Linked DNA regions of Homo sapiens: all the other regions are reported to be linked to region 2. Evidence: microRNA targets listed by miRTarBase, many of them from high-throughput screens and not tested one by one. Region 2 holds a microRNA gene; each other region holds the end of a gene's coding sequence.
What was found. Region 2 holds the annotated microRNA hsa-miR-5703 (AGGAGAAGUCGGGAAGGU, at 1,996-2,013, opposite strand). A microRNA usually pairs through its seed, bases 2 to 8, with sites in the 3' UTR of a target mRNA and lowers its output. Matches are read on the target gene's strand: a 7mer-m8 pairs with bases 2 to 8, a 7mer-A1 pairs with bases 2 to 7 and ends in A, and an 8mer does both.

Region 1: miRTarBase lists LCE1B as a target of hsa-miR-5703. Seed matches in the 3' UTR shown: 7mer-m8 at 1,159-1,165 and 7mer-m8 at 1,257-1,263.
Region 3: miRTarBase lists SLC25A36 as a target of hsa-miR-5703. Seed matches in the 3' UTR shown: 8mer at 3,207-3,214.

What each region holds. Positions count from the first base shown.
Region 1 is chr1:152,811,701-152,818,901 of GRCh38, forward strand. It overlaps LCE1B (late cornified envelope 1B), which reads left to right and starts at 271. Exons shown (of 1, transcript NM_178349.2): 1 at 271-1,408. The coding sequence starts at 747. The coding sequence ends at 1,103.
Region 2 is chr2:227,466,974-227,474,174 of GRCh38, reverse strand. It overlaps MIR5703 (microRNA 5703), which reads right to left and starts at 2,043; the gene lies at 1,988-2,043. It overlaps AGFG1 (ArfGAP with FG repeats 1), which reads right to left and starts at 2,019. Exons shown (of 13, transcript NM_004504.5): 1 at 1,587-2,019. The coding sequence starts at 1,753. LOC124907994 (a long non-coding RNA gene) reads left to right here and starts at 2,076. Exons shown (of 2, transcript XR_007088114.1): 1 at 2,076-3,015; 2 at 3,186-3,387. RefSeq lists a silencer at 1,311-2,030 and an enhancer at 2,143-3,106.
Region 3 is chr3:140,975,624-140,982,824 of GRCh38, reverse strand. SLC25A36 (solute carrier family 25 member 36) reads right to left here. Exons shown (of 7, transcript NM_001104647.3): 7 at 1,830-6,565. The coding sequence ends at 6,372. Among named protein-coding and RNA genes, the nearest start is that of SLC25A36, 37 kb to the right of the region's middle.

The sequences.
Region 1 (7,201 bases), not on the chromosome of region 2:
AAAATATAATTGTCCTTTCCTGAAAAGATGAGATGGAAACAGTGGTTCCCAGCCAGTGTAGAGGATATCACAGCTAACCGACTCTCTTAAACTCACATTTAATGGTATTTAACTTGGTGAGACAAGTACGGTAGACAAACAAAATATAAGTGCTGAGCATTCAGTACAGGTGTTTGTCTGCTGAAAAATGTCAGAGCACTGGACTAAGTCAGAAACCTGTATACAATTCTCACTTAATTCAATGATATTTTTCCTCCAACTTCCTTTGCAGTTCTGAACTTCTATGTCCTTACAACAAGGTAATCTAGAAAATTCTTCCAAGAGAGAATGACTGTTTCCCCTTGAGAAACAATTTTATTTCCAAACCCCTTTCTAGATTGTTTTCATGATTCAGGTGTGTAGTTGAAGCAGAATGTCTCCTCTACATACTACATGCTTGATTTTGAGAATACTTTCTTAATATCTTTTGGCTTCGGTTTTCTAATTATAAAATAGTTGAAAATGCTTTATGATTTTATAAGTATATAAAAAGCATTAGGTTCAAAACAGAGGCTATAAGTGTGTTTAGCCAACTATTAGACACAATGAAACTTCCCGTGATTAATTAGCTACAACTACACTAAGCAGTTCATCAAAATGTAGGGATTAGAAATGATGCTGAAAGGGCAAGAATAGGCCGGGGTGGCCTCTACCTGGGTCTAACTTGCTGTCTGACTCTCTCTCAGCTCCTGAACACCCGCACCAAGATGTCCTGCCAGCAGAACCAGCAGCAGTGCCAGCCCCCTCCCAAGTGCATCCCCAAGTGCCCTCCCAAGTGCCTCACCCCTAGATGCCCCCCAAAGTGTCCCCCTAAGTGTCCTCCAGTCTCTTCCTGCTGCAGTGTCAGCTCCGGAGGCTGCTGTGGCTCCAGCTCTGGGGGAAGCTGTGGCTCCAGCTCTGGGGGTTGCTGCAGTTCTGGGGGAGGTGGCTGCTGCCTGAGCCACCACAGGCGCCGTAGGTCCCACTGCCACAGACCCCAGAGCTCTGGCTGCTGCAGCCAGCCCTCCGGGGGCTCCAGCTGCTGTGGAGGAGGGAGTGGCCAGCACTCTGGAGGCTGCTGCTAAAGTGGATCCTGAGCCTAGAAGAACACAAATGGCCAAATATTTCCCTTCCGTCTTCCTTCTCCTTCTGGGCCTGCCCATGTTGTTGAGAGGTCTTGGTGAGGGCTCAACTCAAGCATAGAGGATTCTTCTGTCTTGGAGTTCAGAGGCCCAAAACTTCTCCCCCAAAGCCAAGCCATTTAATGACCTCAGTTTGCGTATGTGTGGTTGCTCTGGGAAGCCCAAAGCACAGACCTATATCCCTTTGCAGCTTGTCTTTTTGCATAGCTCAGCCTGATGTGAAACAATAAAACCAGAAATATGCATTCCTTTTTGCCTTGACTGATTGTTATTTTTTCATTGCTTTTCATACTCTGTCCTCATCTCCAGGCTCTCCCAAGATGTTAGTATCTACAGACCTTGTTCAAATTTAGCCAATCTTCCTACTAATATCCTTTATAACAAAAGACAATTTTGTTGGTTCAAAATCCAATCCAGGATCTCCATTGCCTTGACATAGTTGCCATGATTCTTCAGTCTCCTCCAAACCGAAATGGCTCTTCAGTCTTTCTTTGTCTTCCTTGACATTGACCTTTTTAAAGAACTATTGGTTTTGTAGAATGCCCCTCAATTTGGGTTTCTCTGATGTTTCTTCTTGACCAGGCTCAGATTACACATTTTTGCAAATATCCTACAAAAGTGATGTTGTCCTTAGAGCATGATATCAAGCCTTACATGATGTCTAATTGTCCCATTCCTGGAGATACAACTTTGACCACTTGATCTGCCAGCTTTCTCTATTGCAAATTTAATATTTATTCCTTTGAATTAAAAACTTATGAAGGAGAGAATAGTTAAACTTCTTTTTTGAGTTGGAGTCTCACTGTCGCTCAGGCTGCAGTGCAGTGGCACCATCTCGGCTCATTGCAACAACCACTTCCTGGGTTGAAGCATTTCTACTGCCTCAGCCTCCCAGGTAGCTGGGATTTCAGGTGTGTGCCACCACGCCCAGCTACTTTTTGTATTTTTAGTAGAGATGGGGTTTCACCATGTTGGCCAGGTTGGTCTTGAACTCCTGACTTCAAGTTATTTGCCCACCTCAGCCTTCCAAAGTGCTAGGATTACAGACGTGAGCCACAGCCCCCAGCCTAAACATCTATTTTGTTTCAAACATTTTCCCAAAACTTTTTTAGTATAATTGATGTTCTTTTACAAAACTGTTATTATTATTATAGTGTTGCTGGTATTGTTGAGTATAGTTTTTTAAAATATATTTATCTCATACCCTGAGTCTATGTACATATGTAAAGCAAAGAGAGGTGGTGAGGATGGGTCCTGAGCAAAATCAGCAATGTCCTGCAACACAACTACTTGAAGGAAGGCCATTACAATTTCTTCTTGTTGAACTCTTATTATATCTAATTTCCTGTGATGACCATCCTTATCCATTTATCTCTCCTACATTATAACTCTACTTTCAGGTAAATTCCTATAACACAATGTTTTTGTGTAAAAAGATTTGCTTATTATAAATTTAAACTCATTACACCTCAATAAGTATCAAATTGCTATCCAGAATTGTTATGCCAATTCACATTGCCATCTCAAAATATGTTTATTACCAACTGTCACATACTATTTTGTTAGTCATTAAAATAATTGTCATTTTGAAATAAGTAAATAAATCTGTTAGTCTCCTTTCTCAAATTCAAGATATTTCTTTTTTATTTTGTTTGCATTTGTTTGAATATCAGTAAAGTTGAACATGTTTTTTGAAATTTTTTTTGTTTGCTTGTTTTAAATGGAGTTTCACTCTTTTGCCCAGGCTGGAGTGAAGTGGCACAATCTCGGCTCACTGCAACCTCAGCCCCCTGGGTTCAAGCGATTCTCCCACCTCAGCGTCCCAAGTGGCTGGGATTACAGGTACCTGCCACCATGCCCTGCTAATTTTTGTATTTTTGGTAGAGATGGGGTTTCACCATGTTGGCCAGGCGGTTCTCGAACTCCTGACCTCAGGTGATCCACCCACCTCAGCCTCCCAAAGTGCTAGGATTACAGGTGTGAGCTACTGTGCCCAGCCTTTTTGAATTTTATTTGCCATTGTATTTGCAAAAATATGTACATATGTGATGGTTAATTTTATGTGTCAACTTGGCTAGGCTATGGTTCCTAGATCTTGCTCTAGCACCATTCACCAGTCTAAATGTTGTTGTGAACATGTTTTTTTTTTAGATGCGACTAATATTTAAATCAGCAGAGTTTGAGTAAAGCAGATTGCCCTCCATAATATGGGCAGGCCTCAACCAATCAGTCAAAGGTCTTAAGAGAAAAGACTGATATCCAGAGACGGAAAAAATATTCTGCCTCCAGGAACAAGGAATGCTTATACACTCTTGGTGGGAGTGTAAATTAGTTCTGCCATTGTGGAACACAGTGTGGCAATTTCTCAAAGACCAGCAATTACCATTCAACCCGGCCATCCCATTGCTATGTACATACCCAAAGAAACATAAACTATTCCATTATAAAAACACATGCACATGTATGTTCATTGCAACACTACTCACAATAGCAAAGACACGGAATCATCCTAAATGTCCATCAATGATAGACTGGATTAAGAAAATGTGGTGCCTATATACCATGGAATACTATGCAGCTGTAAAAAAGGATGAGATCATGTCCTTTGCAGGGACATGGATGGAGCTGGAGGCCATTATCCTTAGCAAACTAACACAGGAACAGAAAAACAAACACTGCATGTTCTCACTTATAAGTGGGAGCTAAATGATGAGAACACGTGGACACATAGAGGGCCTGTCAGAGGGTGGAGGGTGGGAGAAGGGAGAGGATCAGGAAAAATAACTAGTGGGTATTAGGCTTAGTACCTTGGTGATGAAATAATATGTACAACAAACCCCCATGGCGTAAGTGTACCTATGTAACAAACCTGCACTTGTACCCCTAAACTGAAAATAAAAAGTTAAAACAAAATCTGCCCTCAGAATGATTTTGGACTTGAGACTGCAACATCAGCTCTCCCCTGAATCTGCATCCTGCCATCCTTCCTTACAAATTTTGGTTTTTCCATCCCTGATAGTCACTTGAACCAATGCTGCAAAATAGTCCTCTTTCTCTCTTTCTTGCTCACACTTACTTTACCAAAACATAACAGAATCTAAAGGAATAGAATCTTAAGGACAAGTTTTCTGAATGAGTTCTGGGATTTCTGGAATTTGTTTTCTAGCCTAACTAGATTTAAATGCACTAATGAACCCTATTTCCCATAGTGAAGAGAACACTGATAGTAAATGTGGCTATAGGGATTTGCAAAATATCACTATTGGATGTTTCTAATCAAATGCTTATAAGAGACAAGGTTTTGAGTGGCTATGGATTTGCTACCTGTGAATACTTTTGTCAAACTAATGAATATAAAGAGATTGGCTGGTTTCTCCTCATTGTGTTAAGTGAGATGGGAGAAGAAAATGATGAGGTCCAGGATTTGAATCCTCAGTTTGTGCACCACATAAATAACCATGCAGCACATAAATAACCTGAAAGTTTCTATGTCTATTCTGAAAGAAACCCTTATCTTCTGTAGTCTCAGAGCTGAGACTGCTAAAAACTAAACCCAAAATCTTTTCAGTGAATGACTGAATTACAATGCCAATTAAATTTCCAAATTCTCAGCATGTCTACAGTTAAAGTGAGGCCACTGATTAAGAAGAAATGGGGGCCTGGCACAGTAGCTCATGCCTGTAATCCCAGCACTTTGGGAGGCGGAGGTCGGTGGATCACTTGAGGTCAGGAGTTCGAGACCAGCCTGGACAACATAGTGAGACCCTGTCTCTACTAAAAAAAAAAAATACGAAAATTAGCCTGGCATTGTGGCACACGCCTGTAATCCCAGCTACTCTAGAGGCGGAGGCTGGAGAAACACTTGAACCCAGGAGGCAGAGGTTGCCGTGAGCCAAGATCTCACCACTGCACTCCAGCCTGGGTGACAGAGTGAGACTCTGTCTCAAAAAAAAAAAAAAAAAAAGAAGAAGAAGAAGAAATGGGACCCTGAAAATTGGAATGAGGACCAATGAGAAAATCCTGATGACCATGGAAACACTATACCTCTGAGTTTGGTTTGGTTGAGTCTTCTTTGCCAGTAGAAGCAGCCTTTCTACACCCACTTGAGGAGGCTGACCCTGATTTTCCTAAGAAAACTGTAATGGGCTCCTGTGAGGCAGTTGCCTTGAAAGACAATGATGATTCTTCTCAGGACCCCTCCCTATCACCTCATTTTGCTTCTAGAGTGAAGTCCCAGCAGGTCCCCAATGGTGAGGTACAACATGTGACCCATGACAAGGGAGCACTACACTCCAAAAGAACTACAGTGTTTACAGACAGACATTTAGGGAATACATGTGGGAATGGATATTAAGAGTGTGGAACAATTGTGGAAAGAATAAAAGATTGGATGAGGCTGAACTGATTGCAGAGATTCTAGGCAATGTTACAGTTCGGGGAGTAAGAAAAGGCCCTAAGAGTTTGTTTGGTTGGCTGGTCAAAACATGGACTGAAAGGTGGCCTAGTGTGTGTGACCTAGAAATGACAGGCCTGCCTTGCTTTGCTGCAGAGGAAGAGATTCAGAGCATTAGGGAGATTGGAATATTAGAATGAATTTGTCATGAAATGACAAATCACCCACCGTGGAAGGTCCAAATGATTCACCTTTCATCACAATTGTGAAACATATGTTTGTGAGGCGAGGCTCAGCATCCTTGAAGAGCTCTAAAAAGCTTAGATTGGCCGGGCGTGGTGGCTCATGCCTGTAAGCCTAGCACTTTGGGAGGCCGAGGTGGGCAGATCACAATGTCAGGAGATCAAGACCATCCTGGCTAACACAATGAAACCCCGTCTCTACTAAAAATGCAAAAACTTAGCCAGGCATGGTGGCACACACCTGTAATCCCAGTTACTCAGGAGGCTGAGGCAGGAGAATTGCTTGAACCCGGAAGGCAGAGGTTGTAGTGAGCCGAGATTGCGACACTGCACTCCAGCCTGGGTGACAGAGAGAGACTCTGTCAAAAAAAAAAAAAAAAAAAAAAATCTCTAACATTTAAGTCTTTAATCCACCTTGAATTAATTTTTGTATAAGGTGTAAGCAAGGGATCCAGTTTCAGCTTTCCGCATATGGCTAGCCAGTTTTCCCAGCACCATTTATTAAATAGGGAATCCTTTCCCCATTTCTTATTTTGTCAGGATTGTCAAAGATCAGATAGTTGTAGATATGAGAAGGTAGCCATCTGTAAGCCAGAAAAGGAGCTCTCATCAGAAAACAAATCGACTGGCACCTTGACCTTGGTGGCTTCCCAACCTCCAGAACTACTAGAAATAAATTTCTATTATTTAAGCCACCTAATTTATAGTATTTTGTTATGACAGCTCGAGCAGACTAATACACTGAATTATTACAAGCCTAGCCAGGGGGTGACTCCATTTACAGATGTACTAGATGTGGTATTTCCTTGAGCAAATTAGCATATCCCCTATTATGCAGCTATTGATCTGGATTTTTTTTCTTCTTACCTATTAGTAATGACTACCAGAATCAGGTTGTTTTCAGCTGGCAAGGGCAGCAATACAACTTCACTGTCTTACCTGCCACCATGGCCACTTTGTTCATGAGCTCATTGGGAAATGACAGGAGAGGCTGGGCAAAGAGTCTGACTGGTATCCACAGAATAGGTTATCCTATCCACTTATTTATTAAAGTCTCTGCTAAGGTTATTGTTTAGTAAACATTCATATGGAACACAAATATCTTACATTTTTTGCTCATTTAAAGAGCTCTCTGCACATACCCCTTCCCCTATTCTCCTTGAGTAGCTATTGTTCTCCTCACCCTGTCCTCTGCAGGTGGTGGCCTTGGAACTTCAGGGGCCAGTGGGACACACTGGCTTGAATTGGGGTCAATGAGGGCAGGAGTGGGAAGGGACTTCCAACGCTGTTTGTCCTATGTCAATTGGCCTGAAGCAGCATTGCTTGTGACCAAGTCTGAAATGTCTTTTGTAAACACAGCTTCTTTGCCTCTGGTCCCCTTCAAGGCCCTGACTGGTCTCTCCATG
Region 2 (7,201 bases):
TAACTCCTTTTTCTGTAAATGAAATGCATGAACCAGGCTACCTCCTTGATATCACCTAGCTCTGTGATTCTGTAGTAATTCGAGAATATTATTAACTGGCAACTTCTCAGAGTGTCTCCCTGGCCACACAGCCTAAAAGTAACCATGAGCACTCTCCTATCAAACAATTTTCATGTTCAGCATAGTACTTGCCCAAGACATTTTTCTTACTTTTGCATCCCCACTGGACTGTAAGAACCAAGAGAACAAGACTTTGCTATATTTACTGGCACACCCCAGGGCCTTACACAACCTAATAGGCACCAAAAAAAATGTCTGCTGAAGAAATAACACTCATGTAATACTAATAATGCCTCTTTGCCCAACTTTAAAAAGCAAATAGTACATACTAGACATGTTCTGCATTTTCTAAGTTTTAAGAAATCAATTTTCCCACATAAAGTATTATGTGCTTTGTATTAATCTTACAAGCAAAGGTTTTAAAAATACTTAGTAACTGCCACGTTGTTAGTAACTTTAAATACAAGATAATAATATAAAAGCATTTTATCAATTCCAAAACCACCTGCAAATTTTCCGAATGAAATTGCACGGCAATAAAAATCTTTATCAAAATAAAGCTTAATGAAGCAAAGAACAACAAACACAAATCATCCCAGTAACTCAGGACGGTAGTGTCTTTCTGAAATCATGGTGACTTGCTAGCTCTCCTCATTTCTGTGTACAGCCAGGGCACTCGGGTATTGATAGCGAGATACAGATAAATCTCACAGATAACTCCATCATATTTAGAATCACACAGCTCCTAGTGGGTACCTTATTGCCATTAAAACTTTCCCCCAACTCCTCAACACTCTCTTCGGACCATAAAACTAAAATCCCACAGCTTCAAATCTGCTCCTCTGCCTCCCCCTCCCGCAATTAATCCTTTCGAACTTTTCCCAGGGGATTCACATCTGCCATCAAGATGCTTTCATCCTGCTACTATTCCTAAGTGCCTGCTTCCTCCCAGTTACGTAGGTACTCTCGACCCAGAAAAAAGGCACGGGCGAGGCAGGCGTCCCTCCCTCCCACCCCAGCTTCTCCCCGACCCCCAGCAGGAGCGCCCAGCAGGTGCCTCGCTCCGCACCGCGGCTCCCGGGCCGCTGAGAGGCGGGGCACACAAAGGACCCGCATGGACCTCCCCCCCGGCCTCCTAGCGTCTTCCCCCACCCCCCACAGCCCGGCGCCCCGGGTAGCTGGAGAGCGAGGGCGGCGGCCGCAGGCTCGACGGAGACCAGGGACGCTCGCCCCGGTCGCCCCCTCCCTGACCCCAACCCCGCCCACGTCCCACCCACGAAGGCTGCCCAGAACGTAAACCCTCGCCCGGCAAAACCGAAAACGCATCCCCAGCCCGGCTGCCCGGGCCCTGCGCATCCAGCCCGCAGCCTCCCACGCCGCGCCCGCCAGCCGGCGCCCAACGGCCGCCCCCGACCGCCTCCCACGGCACCCGGCTCTTTCCCAGCCCCGGAAGGGTCCCGGTCCCGCCGCCCGCTCCCCCACCTCCCGGGAAGGGCCCGACACCCGCCCGGCCGCCCCGCACTCACAGGCTGCCGGAGCAGGAGGTACACACGAAGGAGCCGACCGTCATGTTAACGTAGGTGGGGCCGCGCTGGTCGCAGTCGAAGCACTTTCGGTTGTGCGGGAGGCCGGTCATGTCCCGCAGCATCTTCAGGTGCTTCTCCTCCTGCTTCCGCTTCGCGCTGGCCGCCATGGCCGCGGCGCCAAGGGAGGAGGCCGGCAGGGCCGGGAGCCGGGCAGCGCTGCGCCGGGGGCCCGCGGTCCCACGGGCCGCCCTGGCCGCGGCCGCCGCCCTCCGTCTGCGCGCGCCGCCCGCGCCGGACCCGGCCGCAGCGGCTTGGCTGTACTGGGCTCGACGCGGCCCGGGCGCTGTGGTACGCGGGCTGACGGGCCACACCAACCGGCACAGCCGGGACAACCGCCGCCGCCGCCGCCACCTTCCCGACTTCTCCTGAGGGGAAAAGACGAGGAAGGGGACGGCAAGAGGAGGCCCGCCCTGGGCGGCCGGTAGCCAAGTGTCCGCTGGCGCCCTCTGCTGGCCAGGAGGAGTCACTGCGGCCTCGCTGAGGCATGGGCCGGGTCTGGAGCCAAGTAGGGTAGACACAATGGTGATAATAATATTAATAATAGACAGTATTTATTGAGCGCTTATATATGCAAAGCGTTTCACATGGGTTACCTTCCCCTTCTGTTTAAAACTCTTCAAGGGCTTTCCACTGCTTTGAGTATAATTCCAAATTCCTCACCGTGCCGTAAAAAGTGCTCCATAGTCTAGCCCAGTCTACCTCATTCTTCGTCGTCCTCACTCAGCCACACTGGATTTTGAGTTTTCTGAACACAGCAAGCTCCTTTCTGACTCCTGCAGGACCTTTGCCCTTGCTCTTCTCTCTTTATCTTTGGGCCAGCTAATTTGGGGGGGCTTGGGGTGTCCTGTGCACTGTAGGATACTGGGCGGCGTTCCTAGCCTATACCCACTAGATACAAGAACAAACCCCCCAATTCCCATTGCTGGCAACCAAAAATCCCCAGACATTGCCAAAAGTGGAGGGAACTTTAGGGCGGTGCAGTCACCTGGCTTGAGAACTGCTGCGTGTGGAAACCCGGATCATCCATAGCTGACATCCTCTAAGTCAGGTGGGGCTCAGATGTCACCTCCCCCGCCAGACTGTCCCAGATCAGCCGAGTTAATGTTGCAGCTCACCTTTCTCGAAGTTGCTCTCCATCAAATTGCTGCGTTGTATTTTCGTCTCAGTTCTAGCTATTTGAAATACTGCATCTTATTTCGTGTTTACCATGGGTGATCTGGACTCTCCCTTTAGGCGCTAAACAGCCTGGCCCCCGTATTTTCTGTGCCACTCCACCCCATTCCCCTCGCAGAGCTGGAGACTAGGTGTTCAATGTTGACGGAATGAATACATGAAATCGTTCATGTAATCTTCACAACAACCCTTCGAGGTGAGCGTTATTGTTATTTACATTTTACAAAACAGGAAGATGAAACCCTGAGGGATTAAGTAAATTTACCCAAGGGTACCTATGGCGAAGCTCAATTCCAACCCAGACAGCCAGACTGCAGGACCCAAATCCCCACTGCAACAATCAACTTCGTCTCTCGTTTTCCAAAGGAGTACAGGGAGACCCAGAGAGCTGAAGTTCTCAAATCACTGGGCTGTTGAATGGATTAGAATCTACGTTTCCTAACAGCCAAGACCAACCTCCACATCTCTCATGAAAGGGATTGGGTGAATCAACAAAGTGAGACTTCATATTAATATAATACTACTAATAATAATTAATGTTTTTAATATTAAAAGAAATGGACAGATAGATTGGCCAATGAATGTTTTTAAACTTTTCTATTATGGAAAATATCAAACTACCATGAGCCCATGGACCACTTTCAGCAATGATTAAGCCCATGGCTAATCTTGCTTTATAAATACCTCAACCCTCCATCCCCTCTCCTATTATTTTAAAGCAAATTCTAGGTTTCGTACCATTCATCTAAATGGTACATAGTTCCATTTGTATCCCTAAAAAATAAAAACTTTATCTCTTTCAAACTTAGCCATGATACCGTTAGCATATCTAAAAAGTTAACAATAGGCTGGGCACGATGGCGCACACCTGTAATCCCAGCACTGTGGGAGGCCAAGGCAGGTGGATTACCTGAGGTCAGGAGTTCAGGACCAGCCTGGCCTACATGGCGAAACCGGGTCTCTACTAAAAATATGAAAATTAGCCAGGCATGGTGGCATGCACTTGTAGTCCCAGCTACTTGGGAAGCTGAGGCAGGAGAATCACTTGAACCTGGGAGGCAGAGGTGGCAGTGAGCCAAGATTGTGCCACTGCACTCCAACCTGGGCAATAGAGCAAGACTCCGCCTCAAAAAAAAAAAAGTTAATAACTCCTAAAGATCATCAAATATCGCACTAGTGTTTAAGTTGGCAATTATCAATATTTTAATGAGATTTTTACAGTTTGTTTGAACCCACTCCTTGCAACTGGGTAATATGTCTCATAAGGTTTCTTTGGGTCTCTCCACCATCTCTTTTTTTTTAATTATAATTCATTTGTTTTAGTAATTGGGCACTTTATTCTGTAGAGTTTCTCATAATCTGTATCATTTAACATGTCCCTCTGTTCTATTTCCTAAAAATTGGTAGTTAGATCTAGTTCACTAGTATCCAGTTCAGTATTTTTGCGGGGCAGGCATTCATTTCATTGTGTTCTTCCATCAAGAGGGACATAATTGAGGAGAGGATATCTTTTTCATGATGTTGGTAACCATTGATGATTAATGTCTAGATTCATTAATTCATTAATGATTAGAAAATACTGATATTCTAATTCTGCCATTCTGGCTGGGTGCGGTGACTCACGCCTGTAATCCCAGCAACTTTGGGAGGCTGGGGCAGGAGGATCATCTAAGGTCAGGAGTTCGAGACCAGCCTGGCCAACATGGCGAAACCCCGTCTCTACTAAAAATACAAAAATTAGCTGAGCATGGTGGCAGGCACCTGTAATCCCAGCTACTCGGGAGGCTGGGGCAGGAGAATTGCTTGAACCCAGGAGGTGGAGGTTGCAGTGAGCTGAGATCCCACCACTGCACTCCAGCCTGGGTGACAGAATGAGACTCTGTCTCAAAAAAATAAAAAATAAAAATAAATAAATAAATAAAACTAATTCTACCATTCCTTCATTTATCAGCTCAAATTTTCTATAAAGAAAAAATTTCCCCTCATCTACCATTTTATTTGGTATAGTACATGTCAGAAAGGCAGGATAAATATTTGATTCCTTTCCTTTATTCACAAATTTTCAAAATAATGTATTGGCTTCATTTCACCTTCCAGTGGTGATCAATATATATAGACAGAGATATATAGATATATCTATATTTATATTTTGGAGACAGGGTCTCACTCAGTCACCCAGGCTGGAGTACAATGGTACAATCATAGCTCACTACAGCCTCGAACTCCTGGGCTCAAGTGTTCCTCCTGCCTCGGCACACCCCCTCAAGAAGCTAGGACCACCACTCCCGGCTAACTTTTGTATTTGTTGTAGAGACAAGCTGTCGCTATGTTGCCCAGGCTAGGCGATCAATATTTTTAAAGTGCTATTACAAACTCAAGGATTTAAATGTATTTAATATATTTTACATCCCCAGTGCTCACATTGTCTCATCATTGGCCAGTGGGAACCACTGAAAGCTGGCTTTTGAGTATTTTGACAAGACCCTTGACTTAATCCTGAAGTCAACTGAAGTTTTTGTTGTTGTTGTTGAGATGGAGTCTCACTCTGTTGCCCAAGCTGGAGTGCAGTGGTGCAATCTCAGCCCTGTCTCCTGTATTCAAGTGATTCTCCTGCCTTGGCCTCCCAAGTAACGGGGATTACAGATGCCCCCGACACCACACCCGACTAATTTTTGTATTTTTAGGAGAGATGAGGTTTCAGCATGTTGGCCAGGCTGGTCTCCAACTTTTGACCTCAAGTGATCCACCAGCCTCAGCCTCCCAAAGTGCTGGGATTATAGGCATGAGCCATTGAGACTGGCCCTGGAGTTATATTCTGACAGGGCCCCGGGCCATTCAAGAGATGAAAGCAATGTTGAATTCTTGACTGATCCAAACAGAAGGCTTACTGACCAGCCCCATGCTGGCTAAATATGACACCCAGCAGTCTCTTATTCATAACCAACAAATGCCCTCACGCCACAGCCAGTGGCTTATTTGTTTCTATATTTGCAGTGCTCCTTTGTCATTTGTTTGTTCTCTGGTTGCTCATCTCTCCATGGTCTATCATCTGATAAATTCCAAAATCAGAAGGCATGGCTGTAGCACCTTATGTATGCAAACAGTGGAATGAGTGGTTGGTTGATTATTGTGTTTTAGTTGTTTTAAAGAGACAGGAGTAAGGCTGGGCACAGTGGCTCATGCCTGTAATCCCAGCACTTTGGGAGGCCAAGGCAGGAGGATTGCTTAAGCCCAGGAGTTTAAGACCAGCCTGGGCAACATAGTAAGACCTTGTCTCTACAAAAAGAAAAAAAAAATTGATTAGCTGAGTGTGGTGGCATGTGCCTATAGTTCCAGCTACTCAGGTGGCTAAAGCCAGAGGATTGCCTGAGCCCAGCAGGTTGAGGCTGCTGTGAGCCATGGTCGTGCTACCGCACTGCAGGCTGAGTGACAGAGCGAGTGCTACCGCACTGCAGGCTGAGTGACAGAGCGAGACCCTGTCTCAAAAAAAAAAAAGAGAGAGAGAGAGACAAATGTAGGTGCAGTATTTCCAAACTATAGACCTGTAGGAAGGCGAATGTTTTCCTCAAGCTGAAAGTTTATACAACCCTTTTGGATGTTAGCTGTTTCATGCCATACATAGTATCAAAGTTGGTTTCTACTTTAAAATATCCCAAGGAGAGTTTGCTGTGTATCAAGCAAGACTACTTATTTACTTTAATTTCCGTAACTTTCATAACAACGCAGAAAGAGGTATTATTACCGCTGTTTTATATATGAGGAAACTAAGGCTCTGAAAGGCTGGCCTGCCCAAGGCCATGCCAGAAGTGAGGCATGAAGCCAGGATTCAAACCCAGATCTGGCTGCCAAGGCACCAGCTTCTGCTTCCAGTGACTGAAGACTGATCCTGCTTATTGGACTTGCAAAGCAGAAATTACCTTTAGAGATGTTAACACTGCAGCCAGAGTAATCTCTTCAAAATCCAAATGTGATTCAGATGTCCCCAGTTCCCTCCCCCTACTTAAGCTTTTGCATTGCTCTTAGGATGAAAGAAAACCTCAGAGGCTCAGACGCCCTGCACAGGCAGCCTCCTTCCTGCTCACCCTAGGTCTCTCCCAGCCTAGCCCAGCATCCCCCAGCAGCGCCCACCTGCCCTCCGCCGCCCCCTGGCCTCTGCCCCGTGCCCCAGTGCCTTGGGCACCATTCTAAGTCCCCACCACTCTGCTCCAGCCCTACTTCCTCTCAGTTCTTTACATTCTCCTGGCTCCCACCACAGGGCCTTTGCACACACTATTTTTGTTGGTAAAAATGGTCTTCCATCTCCACTTTCCCTTCTCAACCATAACAGATCCAGCTTAATATCTGTTTTTCAGAGATCCTTTCCTGACATGCCTAAACATGTC
Region 3 (7,201 bases), not on the chromosome of region 2:
TTTATTTCACCCTCATTCCTAACCCATCATCTAGGTAGCAGAAATCAGTATCTTCACTTTGTTTTGATATTCTTCCATTTCACTACAATGTTTATAGGCATGTTTTAATCTTATTTAGAATGCATTGTGATTCATGGAGCTATGGATTCATGTTTATCATCAACGCTGGGAGTTTTCCAATCATTTTTTTTTTTTTTTTGAGAAGTAGTCTCCCTTTGCCGCCTTGGCTGGAGTGCAGTGGTGCAATCTCGGCTCACTGCAACCTCCGCCTCCTGGGGTCAAGTGATTCTCCTGCCTCAGCCTCCCCAGTAGCTGGGATTACAGGGGCCCGCCACCACACCCAACTAGTTTTTGTATTTTTAGTAGAGACAGGGTTTCACCATGTTGGCCAGGCTGGTCTCGAACTCCTGACCTCAAGTGATCCGCCCGCCTCGGCCTCCCAAAGTGTTGGGATTACAGGCGTGAGCCACCGTGCCTGGCCTCCAATTACCTTTTAAAATATTGTCTCTTCTCCATCCTCTCTGCTTACTCTGGAACTCCGATCAGAAGTACATTAGACATACTTATCCCATTCTCCATGATACCTAACTTTTCTTCCATATAGTCCTCTTCTTATCTCTTTGCTGTCTTTTGGGTAAAGTATTTTAAAGAGATAAGTATCTAGTTTATGCTTTTATTTTGCATTAGGTTAAAAATGCTTAACATGAACAAATCTTAAATGTACAGTGACAGTTCGGATGTGTGTCCCTGCCCAAATCTCATATTGAAATGTAATCTCCAATTTTGGAAGTGGGGGTTCTGGTGGGAGATGATTGGATCATCGAAGTGAAATAATGCTTCATTTTAATTCATATTGATGTCCAGTTGCTCCAGCACAATTTTTCCAAGTTAGGAAAACAACAAAAAACCCTAAAAATCAGTATCTAATTTAGGAAGGTATAGATCAAATAGTCTGGGCCACTAAAACACTTAAGCTCATACTAAGGAGATCGATCATATTGGAGAACCTTAAAAGGTAAGATTCAGAAGTAATGGCTGAAGAATGTTAGGGCTATTTATCCTTGACAATGACTCAAGGAGGAATTCTACAGTGCATTGGAAGAGCAGGGAGGGGACTGGGAAACAGAAAATCAGAGGTCTAGTACTAAATTGTTTGGTTGGATTTGATAAGCTCCTGAGTTACATTAGGTTTGGAATCCTGGTCTACCCCTGGTTTTAAAATCTCAAGACATTTACACCTTTTGAGTCAATTCCTAGGAGATAAGAACAAAAGAAAATGGGTTATTTTTCCTAACTTGGGCTAAAACACTTTGACCTTTAACAAAGAATGCCCCTCCCCATGTCAGCCTGTAAAATTTTTTATCTGTTTCAAAGCCTAGTTAAAATGCCATTTTCTCCATGCAACCAAGATTTTGCTAAAAGAATTACTACTTTCAGAGAACACAGATCACCTTCTGACACTCCCGAGGCTCAAAGACAGTATTAATTAAGAGCAACTTACATAAGACAAACTAGTATCTGTTAAGTCTGGCTTTCTAGGATGTTGCTAATCATTCTTTGGGAGAAAAAAACCTTGAGAGGTTCTCCACTGGCCTCAGGATGTAACCTAAGGTCTATATACGTTAGCTTCTAGACAGTTCATACTGTTCTTATGTATTCAACTCTGTTCCTGATTACTTCCTAATGTTTCATTCAGAGCCAACTTCTATCCATCTTTCCTTTAGAACGAAGTTTCTAAAACATCTATCTATTGTCAAGTGCTGGTGAATAACCTAGTGTAGTAAATAAAAAAACACAGGACTAAGATTCAGAGCACTCAAGTCAAAAACTCCAGTTGTAACTAATATTCCTCTGTATTTATTGGATCTATAGGCTATTAAGAAATCACATGACACCACTGTATAAACACAGCACTCTATGAACATAAATCTTGAATTGATTCAATACATATTAAGGCAGTCAGCTGGTCTACACAGTGCGAAAATAAAGAAACAGAAGGGAAGTCAGGCTGAGGCAGAATCGCTTGAACCCGGGAGGCAGAGGTTGCAGTGACCTGAGATCATGTCATTGCACTCCAGCATGGGTGACAAGAGTGAAGCTCCGTGTATATATATTAAAAGGGGGGGGGGGCAGGGGGAACATTTAATTACATTTTGCTTGCCTGAGTTTTATCAGTGTATAAATGTCACACTAGAACCTTAAGAAATCATGAACTCACAAATTACTTCCCTATCACGGCTCCCAATGTTCAGTAATAAACACACACACACAACTTGGAACACCTGTGCTCAATTTTAACCATTATTTTGCCAGTGCCTTCAGTGCAGAGTACTATTAGTAGAACCAACAATTTCAGATTTATGTCAATGTTGAAATACAAAATATATTTCGTCCTGGTTTCCTCAAGACTGGACAATGTTTGATGTTAACTACAATACAGAAAAACTTAAATAAAATAGACAAAATGTAAAGAGGGTAGGCACTACATAGCATTTTATCTTTGTCATTTGTATTTTGATCTAACATTATGTGGATTCATTTGGTTATTCTAACAAGTTCTCACCTCTGTATTTTTAATATCAACTTTCACAAAGGCTGAAATTAAAACATGAAAAGTGTTGGATAAAAGTCAATAAACCTGTGGAAGATATGCAAGATTTCTTTGTACACTATGAGGGAGTTGGATTACTTGACCTTTGGGTTCCTTCAGACATCACTAGATCTAACAGATACAAAGTGCTCAAGATAAGGTTTGCTGACTGAATCAAGCGAGCCTAAAACTTAACCTGAAAATGGCAATGGATTTTTGTTCCACACATAGGATAATCCAAAAAAGTGTGATTATGTTCTCAATAAAATGTTGATATATTACAGAAAAAGCCATATTTTCATGAGCGTATTTTAATTTTTAAAATTTGAACAATTCAAGTAAAAGTCAGCTAGATAACATAAATACAGAGTAAATGCACATAATTTACAGCCATGTACATAAATGCAAGATACCAAACCTCACATGAATAGTCAAAAGTTAACACTTTTGAGGTTCACTATTTAGCTATGACTGATAGGTCATAATTCTTCACATAAACGGGGTACACATTCCAAAAGTTTATAAACACAAAAACTGAGTCAAACCAGAATTTTGTTTCTACAAGGAGTAGCATAAAAATCAGTGTGTAGGTTAATGGGAAATACTAAGTACATGATGGAGAAGAGATCTGAGTGGGCAGAAAGTTTGTACATTGTATTTTATGTATTAAAATTCCTCAAATTTAAATCATTCAGAAATACCTATATTCTTAGGAATGTTAAAGTCATTATATATTTGAGGAGAAAAGGCTGAACTGTACTTATCAGCTCCAAAGGGGGTCCCTAGATTACTAACAGTCTGGGCAGAAGAGCATGTAAACAACAAAAGGCAGGCATGGACAATTATTGAAGGGCAAGAAATGGATTGATTTTTAGCACTTAAATCCTTCAAATCCGAATAAATATTTTTAGTGATTTAAAACCAACCTAAAAATGCTGAAATGTCTGTAACCCAGTAATAGAGCAAACATTATTTTTACCAACCCAAACTCTGCTGGTCCTAACATAGTAATGCTATCTCACAGATAATCTAATGATATTCTATCCTGACTTCAAAGTTACAAATTCACTGTGGTGGACCCATCTAGAAAGGATGGTTCTACAAAGTTACATAATGAGAATCAAACGAACTTTTGGTGATAGTTTTTTTCCTGGGATTAAAACCACTGCATGGTATCCCGAAATCACAAACGCTAATTCTTCAGATTTGAACTTTGAAATTTAAAAGTACAACAAACTAAATAATGTGGACTCTACACCAGAAATAAAAAAGTCATGATAAACAGATGAAAACAAGTTAAAAAAGTCCAATGCTCTGAATATGTGTTTTTGTTTTTAAACATGAGTCGATTTTTTAAAAACTTCAAAGAAATATTTCAGAGACAAACTTTATATACAACTTTTATATATAGTTTTCCTTTTTGAATTATCTCTGTCATACATAAACTATTGCAGATTGTGCTTAGGGAAAAATACAACTGAAATAAACTTCATTGCTCCTTTCTAGTTGTTGCACAAATAAACAATGTCCAAGACTCTAAGATTTCTTTGCTTTCCAGTACATACATAATACTGTTAAAAGCTGAATATAATGCACTAAAGGTCAACACAAGTTTTACTTGCTAAATACAAATAGAGAATATATGTTTATCCTTGAAGGACACTTGTTATGAATATGCTACAACTAAATAATAAGATGTTCCTTAGCTGCTGGTTTTCATATCATTCTTAATCATTTGTGGGGTACTGAGATCAGTAAGACTAGGGAGAGTCTCTATCTTACATTCAACACAATGAATGTTTATGGGTCTTCACAAGGCAAATGGCACTGTATTAGGCAGTAGAAATGGCACCTGAAAAGGCAAACACGATAGATTCAGACCTTCTCTACAGATTTGTTACAAACCGGTTTTTGGTACGTTCCTCATAATACATGTCAAAGCTGAAATTTACCATAAAAGGTACGAATAATTCCAAAGGTAAGAAAACTGATTTTGCCTTTGGTCTCCAAATAGATTGGAATATTTTTATTCCAATTGAGCACCTCAAAAACATCCAGTTACTGTTGATCACAAGGAAGTTAAAGTGGGGGAATTTAACAGGGCACTATGTTTCACTGGTGACAGCAGAGAAAGCTTGCAATGACACGCTGCAATATTCTATAATGTTGGGGGTACGACAGGGTACACAGAATACCTAAAACATTTATATTAAGGATATCCGAAACAACATATTTAAAACCCAGAAAAATGTTATGAACACTGTTTCTGCCTAATACGTGACCAATGTTTTTGTTTTTTTTTTTAATCTTAACATGGTATTCTCTCCTACTCTCTCACCCTCCCCCCCAAAAAAGGCCACAAAGTGCTTTCACGAAGCGTCATTCTTTTAGATAAAGCCATTGCACAAAATGTACAGTTCAGGTATACTGAAATGAGTACCACACCGGCGTCCAATTGCGGCAGTTTTTATACACCAGTATGGCATAGGCGAAGTCTTTTAACAGAATTACAGCAAACACCTTTATAAGGGCCATACAAATAACACATTTAAAGTATTAAAAGGTACAGCTGACTCAATAGCAGAATTTAAAAGCTACATCCTATTAGCACATTTAACCCAAATGAACTTGAATCTTTCTATGATTTACCACGCAGGAAACTAGGACAGAATAAATTTCTTGTCAAAAGCAGTTTGTTCATTTACACAAAACTATAAGTCAATTAATGTCACTACCTGCTAAAGCAGACAGCAAGGGGGCCCTTGTCTATAATATTTATACTGTCCCAAATATTGTCACCTTAAAATGGCAAAACTTTAAATTACTATTTTCTTTACAAAATAAATGTAATCTATTATATATAGACCTGGAAAAAACTCAAAAGTTCAAATTCTTAATGTGAAAGCAAGTAGGTAAAGATTCAAAAGTGAAAAAATCTTTTACACTTTATGTAAATGATACTTAAGTATGACAAAGAGGTGATAATTCAAGTTCGTAACTAGTAAGTCACTAAAAAGATAAATGCATTCATTCATGTACCACAAAATCAGAGAAGACACGAGGACATGCCGCAGTCAGTGAAAAAGCCGAGAAATCAACATTTTACTAGTTATTTTGTCCCAAACTATTACCATGTGTGTTTGGTATGTTAACAATTTAAATATCCACATTAGGCTAAACAACAAGCACCTGTCAGCAGTGGAAACCAAAACATTTTGATGCTAAAAAATATACAAGATATTTAGACGCTATTTCATTGGTTGTCAAAAACAGTGACTACTGCCAAATAATTAAATTTAAAATATTGTGCCAGGTCCTCTCAGGGAAATGTGAAAATAATACTGACGATCTCATTGTCATTGCTGTTATTTTACTGGAATTAAACAAAGGCCAGAAGTTATAAATTTATGACTGCCAATACTATCTTTGGATAGTTACAATACAGTATGTAAAATTAAGGATGGCTTTGTTTAGAAGACTGCCATAAATCAACAAAACCCAACTGTGTCTGGGGGACATGGTAGAGAAAATGGCAATTTTGAGAGAGGAGTGCTTCTAAAGGCATTTCCTTGGAGGCTCTGAGGTTTTTTTTTTTTTTCACATTACCGAAAGGCCAAGTAATGTGGTGTGATTACTATAATTCCTACAACAAAACTTCCACTTAGAATAGTTACATGTTCCCAAACTATTTTTCTTCTGTCTGCCATGCTGGCTTCTGTATCCCATGGTCCACTGTAATCTTTTGGTCTTCTTTTTTTGCAGTACAGCAGTCCTCGTGCTGCTATCCATTGAGTAGGTAAACCACCAATTCATAGGTGGCCATCATAATGGCTGTGTTTGGAATCTGTCTCACTAGATGAGTTGTCAGACCACGATAAAGAGACCCATAACCTTCTTCTTGAACAAGCAAAGATAGAGTCTGAAAAAAAGATCTGTATTTTGTTCCCTCTTCACGTAGTCTTGTTCTTACAACTTCTGTGTAGGAAAGAAATAAAATTAAACATTACTGATATCTTTACACTCTTCTAATTATAACTGAGCACATCCCATTTATCAGTCTGTAAGTGTAAGCTCAGGATAAAAAAGGATGGCTTCTAATGTGTAGCTTATTGAAACCAGTCACATTATAGTAACATCAAACTTCTAATATGGCCAAAATCATGTACATTAATTATAGACTTTATAGTCTTTGAATGTAAAAAGACACAATATAACAAGAGAGAAGTATCAGTTGTATGCTAGATAAACAGATAAAAGGAAGAATAGAAATGAGAAGGAGGAAAAGGTGAAGAGGCAGTAAAGAGGTGGCATCCAGGATGAATATAAAAAGGATACAGTGAGAAACAAGCAGAAAAGATTTGTTTAAAGTGAGTACTACAAAGAAACAATAGCATTATTAATCTATTCAAAACAGTCCACATATATGAATGTGAAACATCATGTGGACAAAGAAGTTGACAATGTTCCAAACACTAGCTGCCAGCTATAAAACCCAGTCTGGGAATCAGGTAAGCAAAAATAATAAATTTTTAAGAGCTGAATGAACCTTAAAGATTAGTCAGTCCAATTTTTCCTCATTTTAAAAGGTGAGAAATTGGAGCTACTGAGAAA